Regions from separate parts of the Homo sapiens genome. Here region 1 is linked to region 2. A link means that fine-mapping ties the variant in region 2 to the expression of a gene that starts in the linked region. Tissue or cell type: whole blood. Region 2 holds a variant in brackets; the other region holds the start of a gene. All regions are shown on one strand. Distances are between the middles of the regions.

Region 1 (8,089 bases), 67 kb after region 2:
TCAGCTGTGATCAGGAAAGGCCCTGGGAGGAGGCCACATCTGAGCAGAGACCTAAATAAAGTTGGAAACCTGTTGCTGAGATATCTGGAGAAGTGTTTCAAGGGCCGGGCACCGGGCATGGTGGCTCACGCCTGTAATCCCAGCACTTTGGGAGGCCAAGGCAGGTGGATCGCTGGAGGTCAGGAGTTTGAGAGCAGCCTGACCAACATGGAGAAACCCCATCTCTACTAAACATATAAAAATTATCCGGGCATGGTGGTTCATGCCTGTAGTCCCAGCTACTCGGGAGGTTGAGGCAGGAGAATCACTTGAACGTGGGAGGCAGAGGTTGCAGCAAGCCGAGATCACACCACTGCACTCCAGCCTGGATGACAGAGCGAGACTCCGTCTCAAAAAAAAAAAAGAAAAGAAAAAAGAAAAAAAAAGAAAAGTGTTTCAAGCAGGGGAACTGGCAAGTGGAGAGGCCCTGAGGCAGAAATATGCTTGGCCTGCTGGAGGAAATGTGAGTGAGGAGGTCAGGGTGGCTGGAGTGGAGGGAGCGAGTGGTAGGAGTCAGACCCAGTTTATTCATATTCTGTAGGTCTTAAGGACTTCAGTTTTATTTTGAGTGCAATATGAGCCCACTGGAATGCTAAAAGCTGAGAGTGACATGGTGCTGTGATTCTGGCTTTAAAAATATCACTTTGGCTGCTTCGTGAAGACTCTGGAAGGGGCAAGGGTGAAAGCAGGGATGCCCGTTAGGAGACCGTTACAGGGGCGCAGGCACAAAATGGCAGTGGCTGGGACAATGGTGGCAGCAGCGGTTAGATGTGAACATGTTGAAGGTGGAATTTGCAGAATCTGGGGGAGGACAGAAGAGAAAGGATAACTTCATCGTTTCTGCTGAACCAGTTGGATAAATGTTGGTGGCACTTCTTGAAGTGAGGAAGGAGTTAGGAAGGTGGGAAAGGCACAAGTTTGAATTGGGCCATGATGGTCTGAGATACCTAGTACAGTGGTTCCCCAACCTTTTTGGCAGAAGGGACCGCTTTCATGGAAGACAATTTTTCCACAGACTGGGGGTGGGGTGGGGATGGTTTCAGGGTGGTTCGAGTGCAGTACATTTATCATTAGACTCTTTTTTTTTTTTTTTTTTTGAGATAGAGTCTCGCTCTGTCACCCACACTGGAGTGCAGTGGAGCCATCTTGGCTCACTACAACCTCTGCTGCCCAGGTTCAAGTCATTCTCCTGCCTCAGCCTCTCAAGTAGCTGGGATTATAGGCATATGCGCCACCACGCCCAGCTAATTTTTGTATTTTTAGTAGAGACGGGGTTTCACCATATTGGCCAGGATGGTCTCGAACTCCTGACCTCAAGTGATCCTCCCCCGCCTCAACCTCCCAAAGTGCTGGGGTTACAGGCGTGAACCACTGCACCCGGCCCATTTATCATTAGATTCTCATAAGGAATGAGCAACCTAGATCCCTCGCATGCACAGTTCACAATAGGGTTCACGCTCCTATGGGAGTCTAATGCTGCCGCTGCACTCAGCTTCTCTGGCTTGCCGCTGCTCACCTTCTGCTGTGCAGCCCAGTTCCTAACAGGCCACAAACGGGGAGTTGGGGACCCCTGATCTAGTAAACATCTAGGCAGGGTTTTGGATAATGGAGTTAGAGTTCCTGGGGAGAGGTCAGGCTGGCCATGAAACATGGGATGCCTTTGCATATAGGTGGTGTTGAAAGCCACAGGACAGTACGGGGTCTCAGGGGGTGAGCATAAAGAGAGGCGACATCAGATGGCCAAGGCCAGAGGCAGAGGAGGATGGGAAGGAGGGGCCAGTGGGGCAGGGGGAAGCTGTGAAGCCAGGGAAAAAGGGTGTTTCGCGGAAAAGGATCAACCTGGACCAGTGCTGCCCCTAGGCAGGGCAGGATGAAACTTAACCACCACGGATTCCATGGCCCCATGGCCTCCAGGCCACAGGGGACCTTGAGAAGAGAGATCTCAGGGGACGGGTGCGGACAAGAGCCCGCCTGGCATGGCTTCAAGAGATAACTGAAGGAAAGCAAGTGGAGACGCGATAAACAGACAACTCCCTGGAGGAATTTTACTCTCGAGAGGAGAATTAAAGGGTAGTAGCTGGAGAGGGATGTGGGGTCAAGAGAAGGTCTTTAACGACGAGAACTCTCACGGCGGTTTGTGCAGAACAGGGTGGGTGTGATGACTGTGGATGGAGAGGGGAGAACTGCAGCGACTCTGTCCTAGGAGGAGGTGATGGGCCGGGACCACCAAGCGAGTGGAGGGTGGACGCCCCTTCCCTCACCCCGACACCCGCATGTGCTCAGTGTCCGTGCCGCCGGCCCTAGTGCCTGGGCTGAACGCGGGGCCGGGACTCTGAGGACGCCTCCCAGGCGGCGCAGTCCGCTCTGGCCAAGGTGGAGCGGGACGCGGCGCTTCCGACGGTGCGCGGGTCGGCTCGGGGTTGCAGGGACATCCGGCGTCCGCTCCTGCCCTGTTTTCCTGCCTTCGGCAGAGCGTTGCGCAACTCTAGCTTTAAACGCCCCTGTCCCCCTCAACTTGTCTCCCCCAGCCCCTCTGATTTACAGATTCTGCAGTCCCCGAGGGTTGCGCCTACGATACCGACACTCGCGGCAGCCCTGCGAGGCGAGTATGATCGTCCCATTTTTCGGAGTAGCAAACTAAGGTTCAGAGACTACTATGTCCCAGGTCGGTCTGGTTTGAAGGTCCGCTTTCCTCTCCCTCCGCCAGCGGGCGGTGCGAGGGACTGGGCGAGGCAGCGCTTCCCTAAGGAGGCGACCCGCAGCCCCGGCCCCCTCCCGACTCCGCCCCGTTGCAGGGCCCGGGTCGGCGAGGCCTCTCAGCTCTAAGCCCGACGGGACTTGGTGATTGGGCAGGACGGAAGAGCTGGGTGGGGCTTTCCACCAGCGGAGAAAGTCTAGTGGGCGTGGTCGCGACGAGGGCGTGGCCTGGTGCCCCGCCCCCGTCCGCGCGCTCAAAGTGGAGGGTGGCTGTGGGGGCGGGGTCAGAACACTGGCGGCCGATCCCAACGAGGCTCCCTGGAGCCCGACGCAGAGCAGCGCCCTGGCCGGGCCAAGCAGGTATCGACGACCGCGCGGGGCGTCTTGGGCTGCACCAGGCGGGCGCCCGGGGCCTGCTGAGGACCACAAAGGGCACTGGGGGTCGTGGTCCAGGCTGTGCTTCCTCCCGCTGGCCCTGGCCCCTGCCTCCGCCCCCGCCCCCGCCTTCCTGCCGCTAAGCCGGCTGCGGCGGGGCCGATTGGCGCCTGCGCCGCTTCCTGCGGCCGGGGCCAGTCTAATGCATGGGGCCCGGGCGGGGGACTAAGGGGAAACTGAGTCACGTCGGTGTGGGAGCAGTTCTGTGTGGGAGGCACCACCCCCCACTGGGCTCGGGGAAGGATCCCCCTCCAAGCTATGCTTGAGGGTCCCAGCCCCCATCTGTCTCCACAGGGGCCGCACCCCACTCCCGCCTTCCCCTTCTTCAGCACCCAGGGGTCCCGCCCTGGCTCCCAGCAGCCTCGACTGGTCCCGGAATGGCTAGGAGGATCCGCTGCAGCCGCCTCCCTCCCCTCCCCTCCCCTCCCCTCCCCTCCCCCCCCCCTCGCGTCCCAAGCCCCCGTGTGCTCCCTCCGCTGGCTCTCCGCACAGTGTCAGCTTACACGCCTTATATAGTCCGAGCAGGCTCCAGCCGCGGCCTGCCTGCCGGGACCTGGGGGCGGGGGAGAGGAGAGCCGGCCCCTGACTCACCCGGCCGCCCGAGGCTCCAGGCTGGCTTGGGGGGAGGCCGCGCCAGTTTAGTCCCTCGGCCCACCCCTGGTTGCAAAGAACCTCAAGCCTGGATTCAGGCACCCCTCACCGTTCCAGTCCCAAGGGGAGGGGGGCTGCTCCTGTCTTTCCAAAGTGAGGTCCGCCAGCCAGCAGCCCAGGCCAGCCTGACAAAATACCTGCCTCCTATGGCTTGGGCGTGCTCAGGGGCTGCCCGTGCCTGCCTGGCCCCTGTCCAAGGCTGGTATCCTGAGCTGGCCCGGCCTGCCTGCCTGCCCGCCCACCATGCTGGCCACTCACCTTCTCTTCTCTCCTCTCAGGAGCCGGCATCATGGATTCCTTCAAAGTAGTGCTGGAGGGGCCAGCACCTTGGGGCTTCCGGCTGCAAGGGGGCAAGGACTTCAATGTGCCCCTCTCCATTTCCCGGGTGAGCCTAGGTTTGGGGAGGGGGCTCCCCCAGCGGTCTTTCGGTGCTTAGGTCTCCAGAGGGTGATGGGGGGAGTCCTAACAGGAGCTGGTCAGGGGCCAGCAGGCCAGGAGATGTCTAGGTCCGGAGATGTAGTGGTACCTGCCTGCCACAAGGACTCCCAATGAGGTGGATACTGGGAGGGAGCACCCAGGCTTCTCCAGCCCTGCACTGTACCCGATGCTGTTCTCCCAAGCTCCTGTGGCCACCTCTGAGGGCTGGAGGGAGGCTCATTGTGCAGGATGGGAGCCTAACATTTCAGGAGGTATCTAAACTTGAGGTGGCAATGCTTGGAGCCAGGCCCCAGGCAGGACACTGTGACTATAGGATTTCACTTCAGCCTCACTGCCGCCCAGGGAATAGCAATCCTCATCCCGTTTTTCCAGATGAGAGAAGAACTCATGGAGAGGTGGCGGGGCTCGCTCATCGAGTCCATGGTGAAGCAGGGATTGGAATTGAGGCACAGCATGGCGTACATTTTTTGTGGGTAGAAGGGGTCTCTCCCCAGCCTATGTAAGGACCCACATCCACTGTTCCCATTCAGGATGTGGTGGCCTTTGACCCCAAGCAGAAGTGTAGGACAGGGCTCCATTCTAGGGGCTTAACTTCAGCTTCCAAGAGCCTGCCCTGGTGTGGGTGGAGCTGGAGGCTGGCTCCTCCCTGTAGCAGGGGGATTGCCTTATAAGCCCAAGAATGCAGCCCCACGCTGGGATGGCCAACAGTGGCTGCGGTCTGCAGAGCTGAAAAGGGCTGGCCTAGGCCTGGCCCCCTGAACCCCACTGGTGGGCCTCTCAGCTGGTCACCAGGCTGCAGCTCCAGCTATATGGTCCAGTTGTGAGACACAACAAATTGCCTGCCCAGAGTGGGTGAGGCCAGCCTGTCGGCTGGCATCTCTGACTGGCCTGGGGGTCAGGAGGGGGTGGGGACTTCCTGCCCCTATATCCGCCTGCCCCAAGAGACCCACCCAGGCGCCGGGTGGGCAGGCAGCTGTTGTCAGGAAGCCCAAGGCAAGCCCAGCCTGGAGGGGCCCAGAGGGTCGTGGCCTGAGGAGGGGCTCAAGCTGGAGTCTGTCTGTAGGAGCTGGGCGTGGGGGTTAGGGTGGGCAGGCCAGCAGTGCTCTTCTCAGGGGTCCTTTGATGGCATTCTCCTGGAACCTGCCCCGCCAGCAGGGTAGTGAGGCAGTGGTTGCCCTATGACACACGTCCCACTACATAGCCCTCACACAGCCCTGAAACCTACCTGACGTCCTGCTCCCTGGGAAAGTGCTGGCCCAGTGTGTCTGGGGAGCCTGAACCTCAGTTTCTTCCCTGATGGAGATGACTTTCAGATATGGCCTGTTGGGGGCACTCCGGGCTCCAGCTCCCTGGTCAGCATCCCTGGCATGTGGGCGGGGCCACTAGCTGATCCCAGCCCTGGAGTTGGACCTGGGCCCACATGGGTGGGTGAGGTGGGCTTTTCTGAGTTAGGCCAGCCCCCTCCCCCTCCCCTGACCCCAGAATGGAGGGAGGTGGGAGGGGCAAGGGCTGGCTGTGGGCCCAGGCCTGGGAGATGAGGTAACGTCTGGGACTGGGGGGCTGGGCTGCTCAGGCTGACTCACCCCCACCTCATGCAGGGTCCAGCCCCCTGGCTTTTTCCCTCCTTGGTTCCTCTGGCCTTACCCTGCCCCTGGCTTGAGCCCCTCCCTGCCTCTCTCCAGCCACCCGCCCAGCGCTGTCTTCTGCTCTCCTGCTGCCCTCCCCACGCTCTGAACACCCCTCATCCTCTGTGCTTCCTGCCCTCCTCACTCTGGGAAGGGAAGCCGTCCCCGCCCCCCACCCCCTCTCCAGGAGCCAGCTAGCTGCACCCCAAGACCCCCACCTCGGGCTCAGCCCACAGCTCCCAGGAGCCAGCCCTGTGGGCAGGGAGTGGCTGGGCCAGGTTTCCCTTCTACTGACTCACCATGACCTTGAGTAAGTCACTTCCCCTCTGGGGTGTCACTTCCCCATACACAGTATAAGGGGTTGATTTAGTTGGATTGAACTAAAGGTGAGGGAGTGGCTCAGGGTGTCTCCAGGTGGGCTGACCCCTCAGTTGGGCCCCCATGCTCAGCAGAGGTGGCCCACAGTGGTGGAGCCTTAGGGTCAGAGACACTTCCTGGCTCTGCCTCTTACTAGCTGGGTGACTTGAGGCAAGTTGTTTAACCTCTCTGTGTACATTTGCAAGTGCAAAATGGGTAAAATCCCAGATTACTCCACAAGGTTGTTGGAAGATTCAGTGTCAATATGTAGCATAGTTGGTGCTCAATAAACTGAAGCAAGTCTTCTTATCTAGCGAGTGAGGAAGGGGCCGCCGAGCTCTCTTAGCCTTCTGACCTCCTACGCAAGCAAGAGGTCATGTTGAGCCCAGCTCGCCTTTCTTTTCCCAGTGCTGTCAAGCTCTGTGCCTGGCTGCCCTGCCCTCTGACATCTCTCTGAAACCTCTTGCCTCCCCTCTCCCTGCCTCAGCTCAGTCTGTGCACTGACCCACCTGAGGAGCCTCCTGGGGCCACTGGCAGCCTGGACCCCCCCAGATCCCCCCCACCCAGTGAAATTGTCTTCCAGCACTGCCTCACAAAAGCCTACTTGATGCAGTGCCAGGCCTCTTGCCAGATGGCTGGGTGGTCCCTTAGGCTTGGACCCAGTCAAGCTGCCCTGCCTGTGTTGCTGGGGCTGGGCTAGAGGCCTGGAAGGGGTTTATCAGGGTCACCCTCTCAGGGCCTGGGAGATACCCAATCCCAGACATTAAAACTGCCAGTAGCCCCTCTACCTTCAAAGCCAAGTCCTGGTCCCTTCCCCTGGCATTCAAAGCCATCGTAAGTGAACTCTCACCCGCTAGGCAGCACACGCCATTCTCCTTTACCGAGGCCCACCGCTTCCTCAAAGTCATTCCTGATGGTCTCAGCTCATGCTGGTGGCAGCCATTTCTCCCAGCCTACTGTCTCTACTCATTGCCACAGGAACCAGGGACTCCCAGCTCAAGAGCCTGAAGGATTGGGGTCAGGGGAAATTGGCAGTCGAGGGCTTGGGAGTGACAGCCATGTATGGCCTACGAAGTCCCAGCTGTCAACTTAGGTCCCATTCAGGCAGTGTTCACAGGGAACCGGGAGATAACAGGGCCTGTTCCTGGCTCTCAAAGGGTCCCAGCAGACCCCTATAGATGGCCCCCGACAGGGTGCTGGGGGGTGAGAGGTCCATAAGAGCCCCCGGTGGTTTCGGGGAGGAAGCTGCCCCCTGCATGGGCCAGAGGGCATATCTGGTAGGTGGAGTGGCCTGGGCAGGAGGCCAGCAGGAGCCTCAAAAGGCAATGGTCCTCCTGAAACACTTGGGCTTTAGCCTGAGCGTGGCTGTTTGTGGACATCATAGCAATTTCTGGACTGTGGGGGAGGGTGGTGGCGGTGAATAGATAAGCATCGTGACTGGGGAAGCTCAGGTGAGCACCACCTGAGGGAGAGGGTCTGGCAGTGAATAAATAAGCAGTGTGACTGGGAAATTGTGAAGCTCAGGTGAGCGCCACCACCTCCTGGGTTGCTTTAGTGTCCAGCAGCTGCCTAGAACTATGTTGAATGAAGAGCTCTCTGGGTTCTGGAAGTGGGACAGCTTTGGGTGGGGCAGTGTTACCACCGTCAGCCTGGCTTGGGTCTGCAGGGTCCAGGGCCTCGGTCACTTTGCTTCTCTCTCCACAGCTCACTCCTGGGGGCAAAGCGGCGCAGGCCGGAGTGGCCGTGGGTGACTGGGTGCTGAGCATCGATGGCGAGAATGCGGGTAGCCTCACACACATCGAAGCTCAGAACAAGATCCGGGCCTGCGGGGAGCGCCTCAGCCTGGG
Region 2 (8,098 bases):
CTTCCTGCCGGACCACGCATTTTCAGATGTGTAGGTGAGACCCTTCTTAATGTCCAGTGATGAGGACTCATTGTTCCTATTTGGTTTGCCTATTTCAGCAGGCGCTCAGAAAAGGCTATGCATCAGAAGCATGGATGTGGAGAGCCATTTCAGAACGGAAACTACTGAAACCCTCAGTTACATTATGACATCTATTAGAAAATTCACTCTGGGGCGGTGCATGGCAGGGCTGGAAGGTATAAATGTCTGGAGGCAGGGGGCCCTGAGATAAGGCTGTTATTGTCCAACAGAGCAGTGACGACTTCGCTATCTTTCCGTAATAAGTCATTTTGTTAGCTGACCTTTTTTCTTTCTTTCTTTTTTTTTTTTTTTTTTTTTTTTTTTGATGAAGTCTTGCTCTTGTCGCCCAGGCTGGAGTGCAATGGCACGATTTCAGCTCACTGCAACCTCCACCTCCTGGGTTCAAGCAATTCTTCTGCCTCAGCTTCCCAAAATGCTGGGATTACAGCATGAGCCACTGCACACAGCCTTGTTAGCTGACTTCTGACGGGCAGGCTGCATTAGTTATTGGAGGCACTGAGAACCACACACTGCATTTCTATTTTTTGAGAGGGAGTCTCACTCTGTTGCCCAGGCTGGAGTGCAGTGGTGGGATCTCGGCTCACTGTAACCTCCACCTCCCAGATTCAAGTCATTCTCCTGCCTCAGCCTCCTGAGTAGCTGGGATTACAGGCATGAGCCACTGTGCCTGCCCACATACCACATTTCAAGATGCCCTGGACTTTAACTGTCTGTGCCAGGCTCTTGTTAGGGTGCTCTTGTTTTTGGACACCCTACTGTATGTGCCAGGCACTGTGCTAACGTCTCCATTTATATCTCACAATGCCATAAGACACTCTTTTTGTTTGTTTGTTTTTCAGATGGTGTCTCACTCTGTTGCCCAGGCAGGAGTGCAGTGAAGTAATCTTGGCTCACTGCACTCTCCACCTCCCAGGTTCAAGCCATTCTCCTGCCTCAGCCTCCCAGGTAGCTGGGATTACAGGTGCACACCACCACACCCAGCTAACTTTTGCATTTTTAGTAGAGACAGGGTTTTACCATGTTGGCAAGGCTGGTCTCGAGCTCCTGGCCTCAAGTGATCCATTCACCTCGACCTCCTGAAGTGCTGGGATTATAGGCGTGAGCCACCACACCCAGCCAAGACACTACTTTTATCCCTGTTCTCTAGATGGTGAGACTGAGACCCAGAGAAACTGAGGACTTTCCTGGAGTCACGCAGCTAGCAAGTGGCAGAGCTTTTAACTTAACTCTGTCTGACTCCCAAGCCTTTCCACTACAATGTACAGCAGAGTGAGTCCACAGATGGCTTCAAAGAAGAAGGCACCCTTGACCTGGTCCTTGAAGGATCAGCACAAGTTTATCAGCCCTGGGAGGCATAAGGGAGAGAATCCAGAGAGTTGAGCACATCAAAGTTGTAAGATGTGGCTAAAACCCAGGGTTCAAGGTGGAGAGTGATGGGGAAAGATGCTGCTGTCAGGCAAAGTCCAGAAGGAAATACCAGGCCTGGGCTGAGCGTGGTGGCTCACCCCTGTAATCCCAGCACTTTGGAAGGCCAGAGGCAGGCGGATCACTTGAGGTCAGGAGTTTGAGACCAGCCTGGCAAACATGGCAAAACTCCGTCTCTATTACAAATACAAAAATTAGCCGGGTATGGCGGCGCATGCCTGTAGTCCCAGCTACTCAGGAGGCTGAGGCAGAAGAATTGCTTGAACCCAGGAGGCGGAGGTTGCGGTGAGCCAAGATCTCGCCACTGCACTCCAGCCTGGGCGACAGAGCGAGACTCCGACTCAAAAAAAAAAAAAAAGAAAGAAAGAAAGAAAAAAAAAATACTTGGCACTTATTCTTCAGGCAGGGGGCCTCCTGAGTTGTTGTAAGCAGGGGTGACAGGGCCAGACTTAGTGTTTCAAGATAGCACTGGGAGCAGCATCAAGACTGGTTTGGACAGTGGTTCTCCACAGTACTGTGTTTGAGAATCACCTGGAGGTTTGTAAAAAAAAAAAAAAAAAATACCTGAAATCCACCTCAAAGTGTCTGATTCAGTGGGGCTGGAGAGTGGCCCACGGATCTGCATGTCAGTCCATTTTCCAAGTTTTTATGACACAAGTGGTCACTTGAGGAAACACCAGTAATCTAGAAGGGAGAAGAAGCAAGGAGATTAGTTACCAAGCTGCTGCCAGAAGTAAATGATGAGTCCTGAACTTGAACAGTGGTGAGGAAAATGGAAACAACAGGATAACGTTTGTCTAATGTTGCCATTTGTTTTTCTTTTTCTCTAGTAATTCACATCTGCCCTCCCACCCCCGCTCTCAAATAGCTAGTCCATTCTGTGCTCATTGCACCTCAGGGGCGGGACATGACGGTGCAGAAAACAGAAACAAGAGTTCTGGTTATGATGCACTGGATTTGTTTCAACACAGGCGTGGGGAGAGAAGGTAGAGGTACAGATGAATCAAACAGGCCATGTGTGCCAGGCGCGGTGGCTCACACCTATAATCCCAGCACTTTGGGAGGCCGAGGAGGATGGATCACCTGAGGTCAGGAGTTCAAGACCAGCCTGGCCAACATGGTGAAACCCTGTCTCTACTAAAAATACAAAAATTAGCTGACCATGATGGCAGGTGCCTATATTCCCAGCTACTCGGGAGGATGAGGCAGGAGAATCACTTGAACCTGGGAGGCAGAGGTTTCAGTGAGCTGAGATCATGTCATTGCACTCCAGCCTGGGAGACAGAGCGAGACTTTGTCTCAAAAAAAAAAAAAAAAAATAGGCCATGTGCGAGATAAGATGGTGCATCCCTGTAGTCCCAGCTACGTGGGAGCCTGGGAAGTGAGGATTGCTTGGACCCAGGAATATGAGTCCATCCTGGGTGACAGAGCAAGATCTCTTCTCTTTAAAAAATGGCCAGCCAGGCACGATGGCTCACGCCTGTAATCCCAGCACTTTGGGAGGCCGAGGCAGGTGGATCACGAGGTCAGGAGATCGAGACCAGCCTGGTAACACAGTGAAACCCCGTCTACTGAAAATACAAAAAATTAGCCGGGCATGGTGGCACGTGCCTGTAGTCCCAGCTACTCGGGAGGCTGAGGCAGGAGAATAGTGTGAACCCGGGAGGCAGAGCTTGCAGTGAGCTGAGATCGTGCCATTGCACTCCAGCCTGGGCAACAGAGTGAGACTCCGTCTCAAAAAAAAAAAAGAAAAAGTGGCCATGAGTTGATAGCTGCTGAAGCTGACTGATGGTTGCATGAGGACATGGGGATTTATTACGGAATTCTGTCTATACTTGTCTATGTTTTAAAGGTCTGTAATAAAAATATCTTTAAAAATATTTCTGGATTTGGTTTCAAAAGGACTTAGAGAAAAGAAGTCTCAGACATAGCTGAAAAGTTCCAAGAAACATCAAGAGCAAGAGGAGAGGGAGGAAGGATTAGGAGAGATGCCTATTCCTCACTCTTTCCAGGTGGTAGGGCCCCACAGGCCTGCTACTTCTGCATCATGGGGAGAGAATGAGTCCTCTGATCAGTGCGTCTGGAGAATCGGGTGCATGATCTGCTCTGTTCTGCCCTTCTTCCTCTTGGGATCTCCCTGCCTACAATGGGTCCACACCCACTGCCCCTACAGGGATTCTGAGAGGGAGGCCTACCCAGCCCAGTACTGCCACAACTCAGGGGCTGCGGGGGGTGTCTGCCTAACTTGGGGGCTCAGTCATCAGCCCACACCAAGCAACATACTCTGACCTGGGGCATGACTTAGTTGGTAATAAGGCTGATATTGTGACTCCATCTGCCTTTCCTTTGCTTCATTTCCCAGTGTGTTTAGAACCCTGGTCAGGGAGACAGGGCCATCTCTTGAGGGTCTTCCAGAGACCCTAAAACAGAGGTTTCTGGAGGCTAGAGAAAAGGAAGGAAGGAAGTGAAGAAGAGAATGGAGGTAAGTGACAACAACATCTGAGGGGCCCAGAGAGGGGGCACAAAATCCAAGAGCAGAGGGAACTTATCCCAGGAAGCAGGAACAGTCAGCATGGAACGCCAATGAGGTGTGTCTAGGAGAAGACCTTAGATAGCCTCACCCAGATTCCCACAGGCAAGAATGGCTGGAGGAGGAAAGCCAGCTGTGGGGAAGAACGAGCCAGGTCTCAGCACCAACCAGTGGGGACCAATGACCTCTCCATGAATGCCTGTGGGGACAGATGACACTAAGAACTAGATTCCCCCAACACACACACTCATAAGGCCCTGAGCCCTTATGCACAGCCTCAGGGAACCCTAAATTAGCTGAGATTAAATTTCTGTCACTCCAGCAGAGTGCC[A/C]AGTGGAAATTAGGTGGAGTTATAGAAAACTTTATATTTCTTGCACACGTGGGTTTATGAACAGAGATTCATCCTAACCGGAGTAAATATTTTGGAAGCAGAATCAACAAGACTTAGAGGTCAGATGAAGCCGGAGTGGTGAACAACAGGAAGTCTCTCCTCCCTTATTTGGGAGGTTTGTTTCCTAAACACCCCAGGCAAATTCAGGTTCTTCAACACTGTCTGTGATGTTTTATTCCTTCCCCTGGTGGTGTTCCCTCATAGGGCCTTTAGTGTAGGTTTAATTGTTCTTGCCCAGTTAAGTAATAATCAGGAGTAATTACCATTTACTTTAATAATGCAATCTAGTAGCAATTTACTATTCGTAGAAAAAGAGTATCTGTTAAAAATATACCATTAAAACTTTTAATAATAGTTACTATAACATTTAGGCCTGGAAAAGATCAAGGCAAAGTCCAGCAGGCTTCACCTCCCCAGAGGGCCTTACCTGGATTTCCCTATTTCCTTCTTCCTCTGTGCCCCAGCTCCATCACCCTAGAGGAAGGTCCAATCTCACCCTGGGATTCAAGATCCCTCATACCCGACCCCATCTCTCACCCTCTGCAACCATATTTCCTCTCCTCTAAACTCCTTTTGCCCAAAGGTGCAAGCCCATTCTCAAGGTTAGAAGGAGGAGGACTGAGGAAGAGGGGATCAGAGTTGGTTTCCTCCCTCAAAAAGTGCTAAGAAATCCCTCTGTCTGGCTGAGGTCCAACTCCAGAACTCAAGGAGAGGAAGGGGCTTGGATCTGCTTTCCTCTGTGATGAGGGGGATTGGACAGATGGTGCTCAGTGACTTCCCTGGGGCTGGCTGAAGCACACACCTGTGAGGCTCATTAGCACCCAACATTACCTGTGCCGATGGGAAACAATGCTGAAATGGTAATCTAGTTTACATTGCCCTTGCAATTTCCCCTTCCTTCCTCTCCACGCGAGCAACTAGGGATTCCATGCCTGTTGCCTTGGGAGGGGAGACTAAGTCACAGGGTGGAAAGGAGGAGGCCTTGCAAACCATCCTGGATTTGGGGTTCCAAAAGCCCAAGCGCTTAGTGGCTTTCAAAACTTTTACTTGCAGTGGCGTGGTGGTTCATACCTGTAATCCCAGCACTTTGGAAGGCCAAGGTGTGTAGGGTCCAGCCCCACAGGGTCAGTGGGTTTTTCTCCCCGTGTGCAGAGACGAGAGATTGTAGAAATAAAGACACAAGACAAAGAGATAAAAGACAGCTGGGCCCAGGGGACCACTACCACCAAGACACAGAGACCAGTAGTGGCCCCGAATGCCTGGCTGCACTGTTATTTATTGGATACAAAGCAAAAAGGGCAGGGTAAAGAGTGTGAGTCATCTCCAATGATTGATAAGGTCTCGTGAGTCACGTGTCCACTGGACAGGGGCCCCCTCCCTGTTTGACAGCCAAGGCGGGGGGAGAGAGAGAGAGAGGACAGCTTACGCCATTATTTCTGCATATCAGAGACTTTTAGTACTTTCACTAATTTTGCTACTGTTATCTAAAAGGCAGAGCCAGGTGCACAGGATGGAACATGAAGGCGGACTAGGAGCGTGACCACTGAAGCACAGCATCACAGGGAGACGGTTAGGCCTCCGGATAACCGTGGGCTGGCCTGACTGATGTCAGGCCCTCCACAAGAGGTGGAGGAGTAGAGTCTTCTCTAAACTCCCCCGGAGAAAGGGAGACTCCCTTTCCCGGTCTGCTAAGTAGCGGGTGTTTTCCTTGGCACTGACACTACTGCTAGACCACGGTCTGCTTGGCAACGGGCGTCTTCCCAGATGCTGGCGTTATGGAGACCAAGGAGCCCTCTGGTGGCCCTGTCCAGGCATAACAGAAGTCTCCCACTCTTGTCTTCTGGTCACTTCTCACTATATCCCTTCAGCTCCTATCTCTGTATGGCTCGGTTTTTCCTAGGTTATGATTGTACAGCAAGGATTATTATAATACTGGAATATAGAGTAATTGCTACAAACTAATGATTAATGATATTCATATATAATCATGTCTATGATCTAGATCTAGTATAACTCTTATTGTTTTATATATTTTATTATACTGGAACAGCTCGTGTCCTTGGTCTCTTGCCTTGGCACCTGGGTGGCTTGCTGCCCACAAAGGTGGGTGGATCACTTGAGATCAGGAGTTCAAGACCAGCCTGGCCAACATGGTGAAACTCTGTCTCTACTAAACATACAAAAATTAGCCGGGTGTGGTGGCACACGCTTGCAATCCCAGCTACTCGGGAGGCTGAGGCAGGAGACTCACTTGAACCCGGGAGGTGGAGGTTGCAGTGAGCCGAGATTGTGCCACTGCACTCTAGCCTGGGGGACAGAGCAAGACTCCGTCTCAAAAAAAAAAAAACTTTTACTTGTATGTCCCCTAAAAGCAGTTAAAAACTTTTACTTGTATGTCCCCTAAAAACAGTTAAAAACTATACAACTTATGTAGCTCGTCCTGTGTCCTGCAACATAAATTATAGTGCCCAGAGCAAAATGAAAATGTGGGCCCTTTGTTCAAACATTAAGAACTTCAAGGCTGGGAGTGGTGGCTCACGCCTGTAATCCCAGCACTTTGGGAGGCCGAGGCGGGTGGATCACGAGGGCAGGAGATGGAGACCATCCTGGCTAACACGGTGAAACCTCGTCTCTACTAAAAATACAAAAAAATTAGCCGGCGTGGTGGTGGGCGCCTGTAGTCCCAGCTACTCGGGAGGCTGAGGCAGAATGGCGTGAACCCGGGAGGCGGAGCTTTCAGTGAGCTGAGATCGCGCCACTGCACTCCAGCCTGGGCGAAAGAGCGAGACTCCATCTCCAAAAATAAATAAAGAAAGAAAGAATTTGGGGGGGGGTCAGCCCCCCGCCCGGCCAGCCGCCCAGTCCGGGAGGTGAGGGGCGCCTCTGCCTGGCCGCCCCTACTGGGAAGTGAGGAGCCCCTCTGCCTGGCCAGCCGCCCCGTCCGGGAGGGAGGTGGGGGGGTCAGCCCCCCGCCCGGCCAGCCGCCCCGTCCGGGAGGGAGGTTGGGGGGTCAGTCCCCCGCCCGGCCAGCCGCCCCGTCCGGGAGGTGAGGGGCGCCTCTGCCCGGCCGCCCCTACGGGGAAGTGAGGAGCCCCTCTGCCCGGCCAGCCGCCCCGTCTGGGAGGGAGGTGGGGGGGTCAGCCCCCTGCCCGGCCAGCCGCCCCATCCGGGAGGTGAGGGGTGCCTCTGCCCGGCCGCCCCTACAGGGAAGTGAGGAGCCCCTCTGCCCGGCCACCACCCCATCTGGGAGGTGTGCCCAACAGCTCATTGAGAACGGGCCAGGATGACAATGGCGGCTTTGTGGAATAGAAAGGGGGGAAAGGTGGGGAAAAGATTGAGAAATTGGATGGTTGCCGTGTCTGTGTAAAAAGAAGTAGACATGGGAGACTTTTCATTTTGTTCTGTACTAAGAAAAATTCTTCTGCCTTGGGATGCTGTTAATCTATAACCTTACCCCCAACCCCGTGCTCTCTGAAACATGTGCTGTGTCAACTCAGGGTTAAATGGATTAAGGGCGGTGCAAGACGTGCTTTGTTAAACAGATGCTTGAAGGCAGCATTCTCATTAAGAGTCATCACCACTCCCTAATCTCAAGTACCCAGGGACACAAACGCTGCGGAAGGCCGCAGGGTCCTCTGCCTAGGAAAAGCAGAGACGCTTGTTCACATGTT

The links. PIP is the estimated chance that this variant, and not a neighbour inherited with it, causes the effect.
Region 1: it holds the start of PDLIM7, and the variant in region 2 is fine-mapped to the expression of PDLIM7 in whole blood (TOPMed, PIP above 0.99).

Annotation. Positions count from the first base shown.
Region 1 is chr5:177,492,535-177,500,623 of GRCh38, reverse strand. PDLIM7 (PDZ and LIM domain 7) reads left to right here and starts at 3,020. Exons shown (of 13, transcript NM_005451.5): 1 at 3,020-3,096; 2 at 4,101-4,207; 3 at 7,947-8,089. The coding sequence starts at 4,112. RefSeq lists enhancers at 1,407-2,146, 2,365-2,414, 3,627-4,368, 7,705-8,089 and silencers at 2,625-3,334, 3,745-3,824, 5,522-5,816, 5,763-5,912.
Region 2 is chr5:177,559,566-177,567,663 of GRCh38, reverse strand. It overlaps FAM193B-DT (FAM193B divergent transcript), which reads right to left. Exons shown (of 3, transcript XR_941274.3): 2 at 2,071-2,190. Among named protein-coding and RNA genes, the nearest start is that of FAM193B-DT, 9.0 kb to the right of the region's middle. RefSeq lists a cis regulatory region at 6,155-6,323. The variant A/C (reference allele first, on the strand shown) is at 4,368.